Linked DNA regions of Homo sapiens. The protein of the gene in region 1 purifies or fractionates together with the protein of each later gene. This does not show direct contact. Each region holds a gene or a part of one and is shown on either strand. Other genes may lie near its edges.

Region 1 (3,500 bases):
AGATCAAAGGGTGCATTGCACTCAGTTCCTGCCCTGGAGATCCTCCAGCTGTAGTCAGAGGACAAAGGAAAATGCTTCTCTCAGCGAGAGCTAAGCAAATACACAGCAGTGGGATAAAGTTCTAAACGGGCACTCCCGAACTGTAACTGACAGAATTACAAGCAACTTACCGTGCGCCATGGCTCACACCTGCATTCCCAGCACTTTGGGAGGCCAAGGCAGACAGATCACTTGAGATCAGGAGTTCAAAACCAGTGTGGCCAACGTGGTGAAAACCCGTCTCTACTGAAAATACAAAAAAATTAACCAGGCATGGTGGCTTGCACCTGTAGTCGCAGCCAATCAGGAGGCTGAGGCAGGAGAATTGCTTGAACCCAGGAGGCAGAGGTTACAGTGAGCTGAGATCATGCCACTGTACTCTAGCCTGGGCAACAGAGCGAGAGTCCATCTCAAAAAAAAAAAAAAAGAAGAAGAAGAAGAATTAGAAGCAATTACAGGAAGATTGCTGTGGTTTAGTGGAGGGCAAACAGCTGAATGGGGACTGATGCAGACCCTAGCAATTGGCGTCGAGGAAAGAGAGACTCATTCAGTAGGTTTACTTCACGATGTGTAAGTGTGTAATGTAGAGCTGAGGTTGGAAAGAGTCCATCTGGGGTTTGGATAGTGTTATTCTTTTTTTTTTTTTTTTTTTTTTGAGATGGAGTTTCACTCTTGTTGCCCAGGCTGGAGTGCAATGACGCGATATCGGCTCACTGCAACCTCCGCCTCCCGGGTTCAAGCGATTCTCCTGCCTCAGCCTCCTGAGTAGCTGAGATTACAGGCATGAGCCACCATGCCCGGCTAATTTTGTATTTTTAGTAGAGACAGGGTTTCTCCATGTTGGTCAGGCTGGTCTTAAACTCCCGACCTCAGGGGATCCGCCCGCCTCAGCCTCCCAAAGTGCTGGGATTACAGGCATGAACCACTGCGCCTGGTCCTGGATAGTGTTATTCTTTAGTGTTTTTTTTAGAGATAGGATCTAGCTCTGTTGCTGAGGCCAGAGTGCAGTGGCACAATCACGGCTTGCTGCAGCTTCAACCTCCAGGGCTCAAGCAATCCTCCTGCCTCAGCCTCCTGAGTAGCTGAGACTACAGGTGCATGCCACCACCCTCAGCTAATTTTTAAATGTTTTATAGAGGTGGGATCTCACTGTGTTACCCAAGTGAGATCCTGGACTCAAGTGATCCTACCCCCTCAGCCTCCTGAGTAGCTGGGACTGCAGGTGTGCACCACCACACCTGGCTGTTGGTTTGTCTTTTTGTTCTGCCTGCCTTGGCAGAAATCTACTACATAGTAGGCATTCAGTAAATGCTCAAGTATTCTTAAGTGTGCTGGTTCTGGAGTTGGACGGGGTGCCAGCCTTGGTTCCTGGGCCTCTGTGTGCCTTAACGTTTTCACCTCTCTGGGAACTTGGGGCCCTTGGGTGTCAATTCTCGCATCTTTCCTTTCCTTTTAATTTAATTTAATTATTTATTTTTTTGAGATGGAATCTCACTCCCTTGCCCAGGCTGGAGTGCAGTGGCGCCATCTTGGCTCATTGCAACCTCAGCCCCCCGGATTCAAGCGATTCTCCTGCCTCAGCCTCCCAAGTAGCTGGGATTACAGGTGCCCACCACCATGCCCAGCTAACTTTTGCATTTTTAGTAGAGATGGGGTTTTGCCATATTGCCCTTTTATTTATTTATTTTAATTTAAATGTTTAATTTAAATGTTTTTTTGAGACAGGCTCTAGTTCTGTTGCCCAGGCTGGAGTGCAGTGGCACAGTCTGGACTCATTGCAATCTCTTCCTCTGGGCTCAAGTCATCCTCCCCCTTCAGCCTCCCAAGTATGTGGGACTGCAGGCATGCACCACCATGTTTGGCTAATTTTCGTACTTTTTAGACAGGGTTTCGCCATGTTGCCCAGGCTGGTCTTGAACTGCTGAGCTTAAGCAATCCACCTGCCTCGGCCTCCCAAAGTCCTGGGATTACAGGCTGGCATCTTTCCTTGCTGGTGGCAAAGGCCAATATTTTAATCATGGACAAAGATAATATTGAATTGCTCAAGGTACTTCTGTAAGGCAGGCATAACAGCAGCACCCTGCCTTGAGCTTTTATCTTAACACACACAAGTTCTTAGGACAGCATCTGGTGTGGAACTCACTAGAGTCAACCCTTATCATTTGTTCACTGAATGCATGATTAGGTTGGGGCCAGGCTTGGGGAAGTCTTACAAGCCAGCCACTATTGAAAGTTTTGATGTGGCTGGGCACGGTGGCTCATGTCTGTAATCCCAGCACTTTGGGAGGCCGAGGCGGGCGGATCATGAGGTCAAGAGATCGAGACCATCCTGGCCAACATGGTGAAACCCTGTCTCTACTAAAAATACAAAAATTAGCTGGGTGTGGTGGTGCGTGCCTGTGGTCTCAGCTACTCAGGAGGCTGAGGCAGGAGAATCACTTGAACCCGGGAGGCAGAGGTTGCGGTGAGCAGAGATCGTGCCATTGCACTCCAGCCTGGTGACAGAGCGAGACTCTGTCTCAAAAAAAAAAAAAAAAAGTTTCGATGTAAGGGAGTTTTCTTAATTCAAAAGATAGATTCTGGCGAGGCAAAGTGGTTCATGCCTGTAATTCCAGCACTTTGGGAGGCCGAGACAAGAGGATCACTTGAGCGCCAGAGTTCACGACCAGCCTGGGCAACATATGAGACCCTGTCTCAACAAAACAAAAGCAAAAGAAAACTTAGCCAGGCATGGTGGCACACACCTTTTGTCCCAGCTACTTGAGTGGCCTGAGGTGGGAGGATGGCTTGAGCCTATGAGGTCAAGACTGCAGTGATCCACAGTTGCACCACCTCACTCTAGCCTGGGAGACAAAGCCAGACCCTGTCTTAAAAAAAGAAAAAATATATATATAGTATATATAATACATAAATACATATATGTAAATACGTATGTATAAATACATATGTATGTATAAATACATATGTATAAATATATATATTTACATATTTGGCTGAGGCTGAATCCTGAGGTGGCGTGGCCTGGCTTTAGATCACATGGAACAACCTGGCAATATAATGGGATATATAATATATATAGTATATATTTAATAAATATATATCATATATAAATATATAATATAATACAAGGATATAATGTTTATAATATATTAATATATCATAAATATATAATTTAAATAATATATTTTATAATTATAAATATGCAATATGTAAATACATTATAATTATATATTTTATATGTATGTATATATTAAATATGAATATGTATGTATTTTATATATGATATATAATATATATTAATTTTTTTTTGAGACAGAGTCTCGCTCTGTCAACCAGGCTGGAGTGCAGTAGCGCAATCTCAGCTCACTGCAACTTCCGCCTACCAGGTTCAAGCGATTCTCCTGCCTCAGCCTCCCAAGTAGCTGGGACTATAGGTGGGTGCCACCATGCCCGGCTAATTT
Region 2 (3,500 bases), on another chromosome or scaffold:
GCCCACAAAGCCTAACATATTTACTCTGCGTTATTAAGAAGACATTTGCCAATCCCTGCTCTAGGTTCTGGAATAGTAAATTTTATAAGTTCTGGGTGCTACATAAATGCCTGTGAATGTAGCAATAATAAAGATGTTGAAAACTTAATTCTACAGAAAGGCTTATTATTAAATTTTCAAGCTCAGGATGGGAATACAAATGGTTGGTGGACTGTTTAAAATGTTTTAAACCTGACAAACCACCCAATGCAGTGAGTGACTCTTGGTAAGATTCTGGTTAATTACTATAAATTATATTTGAGGGAAAACTGAAATAATATAAAGGAATTCTTGTTAAATTTCGTATGTCTTTTGTGTAGGATAGTGCATGCTGAAGTATTTAGGGGTAAAGTGTCATGTTTTAAAATTATTTCAAACGGTTAAACATGTATACAAATATAGGTATTGTATATTGTATATTGCTGTACAAATATAGCAAACATTGCGGTTTTGGTGGTGGCAGGGGGATCACTGTACTGTACTTTTTTTCAAATTTTCTTTTTAAATATTTTATTTTTTTCTAATAAAATAGTTGGGAGAAGTTCCAGTTTGTTGAGAAGCACGACAAAAATTAATAATCGATAGAAAAGCAAAGTGTGAAATGTTTAAGAAGTGTAAAAATTGAGACAAACAGAAGAAACATACCATTAATATGAGACTATAGGAGAGGCTGGAAAGTCTACACTTGGAGGCATATTTATTCTTTTCTAAATTGCGTAAACACCATCACTTCTTTCTGTAACAATATTTCAACTGAAAGACAATTTATCTTCCAGTTGTTAATGTTAAATTTTATAAAATGTTAGATGGAAATGTGTTAAGAATAGCAATCTCCCTTTAAAAATCTGTCTCCTCGATGTAGAAACATAAGCATTTACCATCGGGTGGGATCCTCAGATGGTGATTCCGCCGTGAAAGTGAAGAGTAAACATCTTGGGTGGTAAGTGCAGACTACCTGGCAGTACTTGGCGCTTGGTGTGAAGACCGTAGTAATGTCCCCTCCTTCAAAGCAGGTGTCCTTCAACAACTGAGTCACACATTCTGTGATGTAGTACATGGCATGCGTTATGTTGGATTTTACTGGGCATACATCTAGTTAGGTGGTAATCTCATAAAGGCAAGGCAAGTAGCTCTACTTACCAGGAAATACGCCTGAATTTGGAAATCAAGGCAATAAACACTTTTATGTGAGTTTATTGAATGAACAGCCTCAGGTGGAAACGAAAATCACAAAATGGTACGTTGGCTTCAATGGAATTGTGCTTATGAGTGATTGTCTTGGAGACAAGGAGTGCTTTGAGGGTAATTGAATCATTTCAAGGATCTTTACTGGCAAAAGCTGCTGCTTTTTAGGATCTCATCCAGGTCTGGAACGAGCCTTCTGCTTTTTCCTTTCCTAATTGCGTCTCTTTATCCAAACCCTGTGCTTATTTGAAACAAAGACTTCAGAGTGATCACTTTCTGACAGCATCTGATGGCTCGGGGGTGTGATAACACACATCCTCACCCCATTGAGAATAATTTGGAAACCCCACCGTGGAAACCCCACCTTTTGGTGGAAAGCAATCTTGCTACATTAAAATAGTACTTTTAAGAAGAATATTAACTGATGAATCAAATAAATGTTCTATATTTAATAATGCGGAGTGGGCGCAGTGGCTCATGCGTGTAATCCCAGCACTTTGGGAGGCTAAGGTAGGTAGATTGCTTGAGCTGAGGAGTTCAAGACCAGCCTGGGCAACATGGCAAGACCCTGTCTCTATAAAAAATACAAAAAAAAAAAAAAATACTAGCTGGGCATGGTTGTTTCCACCTGTAATCCCAGCTACTCGGGAGGCTGAGGTAGGAGGATCTCCTGAGCCTGGGAGTTTGAGGCTGCAGTGAGCTGTGATTTTACCACTGCAATCCAGCCTGGGCGACAGAGCAAGACCCAGTTTCTCTCTCACTCTCTCTCATGTGCACATGCGCACACACGTGTTCTGTGTGTGTGTGTGTGTGTGCATCATGCACTAATTTCCTTAGAATATATCCCCCTCCTAATTGGATTATTTAATTTTACAAGACAAATTGATTTTCAATATGCCACTAGATGGGAGGATGGGAGTGGGGTGAGCGTTGAAAAATTACCTGTTGGAGGCTGTGTTCACTACTTGGGTGATGGGTACACCAAAAGCCGGCACTTCACCGCCGCATAATATATGTATGTAAGAAATCTGCACTTACACCCCCTAAACATATAAACATTTAAAAATTTTTGGAAAACAATTTTGGAAAAAAACTCTGCACACGTTGAGTACAGATACAATTTTTTAAAAAATATTTCACGTCAAGGTTGTTTGAGTGCATGGATGTGGAACACATGGAACACATGCTGCTTCTAGTGTCAGTAAAAACTAGTTCATCTGCTTTTGCGAACGAGCAAGTGCTTGCTGTTGTATATTGACGTTGTATCGAGACTTCTTACTCATTTAATTAATTGGCTCAAATAATTTATGTGATGGTTAATTTTGGATTTTTCTAGGTACTCAATCACATCATCTGTGAAAAACGAGAGCTTATGTTCCTCCTAATCGTTTTCCTTTTATTTCCCTTCCTTACCGCACCAACGAGTACCTCCAGTCAAGAGTAAATGGAAATAATGGGAAGTATTCTTGTCCTATTCTCAATCCCTTGGGAAAGCTTTCAATATTCCGCTATTACGTATTATGTTTCTTGAAGATTTTTGGTTTGGATTTTTGTTTGCTTTTGTTTAAAATATCGTTTAATAGCTGATGAAAGTTCTCTTCCATTTCCAGTTTATTTAAAGTTTTGATCATTAATAGAATTTTAGCAAGCATTTTTCGGCACATATTAACATTTAAAATTATTTTTATTTTTTATTATGACAGATAGCATACCATGTGCCATGTAGCCATCTTGAGTGTACAGTTCTGTGGCACTAAGGGTATTTACATTGCTGTGCAACCATCAGCACCATCCACCTCCAGAACTTTTCAACTTCGCCAGCTGATGCTCTGTGCCCATTAAACACCAACCCTCAGCCCTTCCCCTGGCCCCTCGGCCCCTGGCAACCTCTGTTCTAATTTCCGTCTTGATGAAATTGACTACCCTAAGTACCTCCTATCAGTGAGATCCCACAGTATTTGTTCTTTTGTGACTGGCTTATTTCACTTAGCGTAATGTCCTCAAGGTTCATCCATGTCATAGCATGTGTCAGAATTTCCTTTCTTTTTAGGGTTGAGTAATATTCCTTTGTATGTATGTACCACACTTTATCCAGTCACCTGTTGATAAACACATGGGCTGCTTCCACCTTTGGGTTAGTGTGAATAATGCTGCTATGAGATGGGTGTACAAGTATATCTGTGTGAGTTCCTGCTTTCCCTTCTTTTTTTTCGGTATGTACCCCGAAGTCACACATCTATTGATTTTTGAATGTTAAATCAACTTTTCATTCCTGG

The links.
Region 2: the proteins of BRME1 (region 1) and F11 purify together in Homo sapiens (affinity purification with mass spectrometry; one large-scale study listed by BioGRID and IntAct). This does not show direct contact.

The regions. Positions count from the first base shown.
Region 1 is NC_000019.10:13,896,118-13,899,617, reverse strand, and holds part of BRME1 (break repair meiotic recombinase recruitment factor 1), read left to right. Parts: intron 1-3,500. UniProt on the Homo sapiens protein: Meiotic recombination factor component of recombination bridges involved in meiotic double-strand break repair.
Region 2 is NC_000004.12:186,269,189-186,272,688, reverse strand, and holds part of F11 (coagulation factor XI isoform 1 preproprotein), read right to left. Parts: intron 1,081-3,500; coding exon 918-1,080; intron 1-917. UniProt on the Homo sapiens protein: Factor XI triggers the middle phase of the intrinsic pathway of blood coagulation by activating factor IX.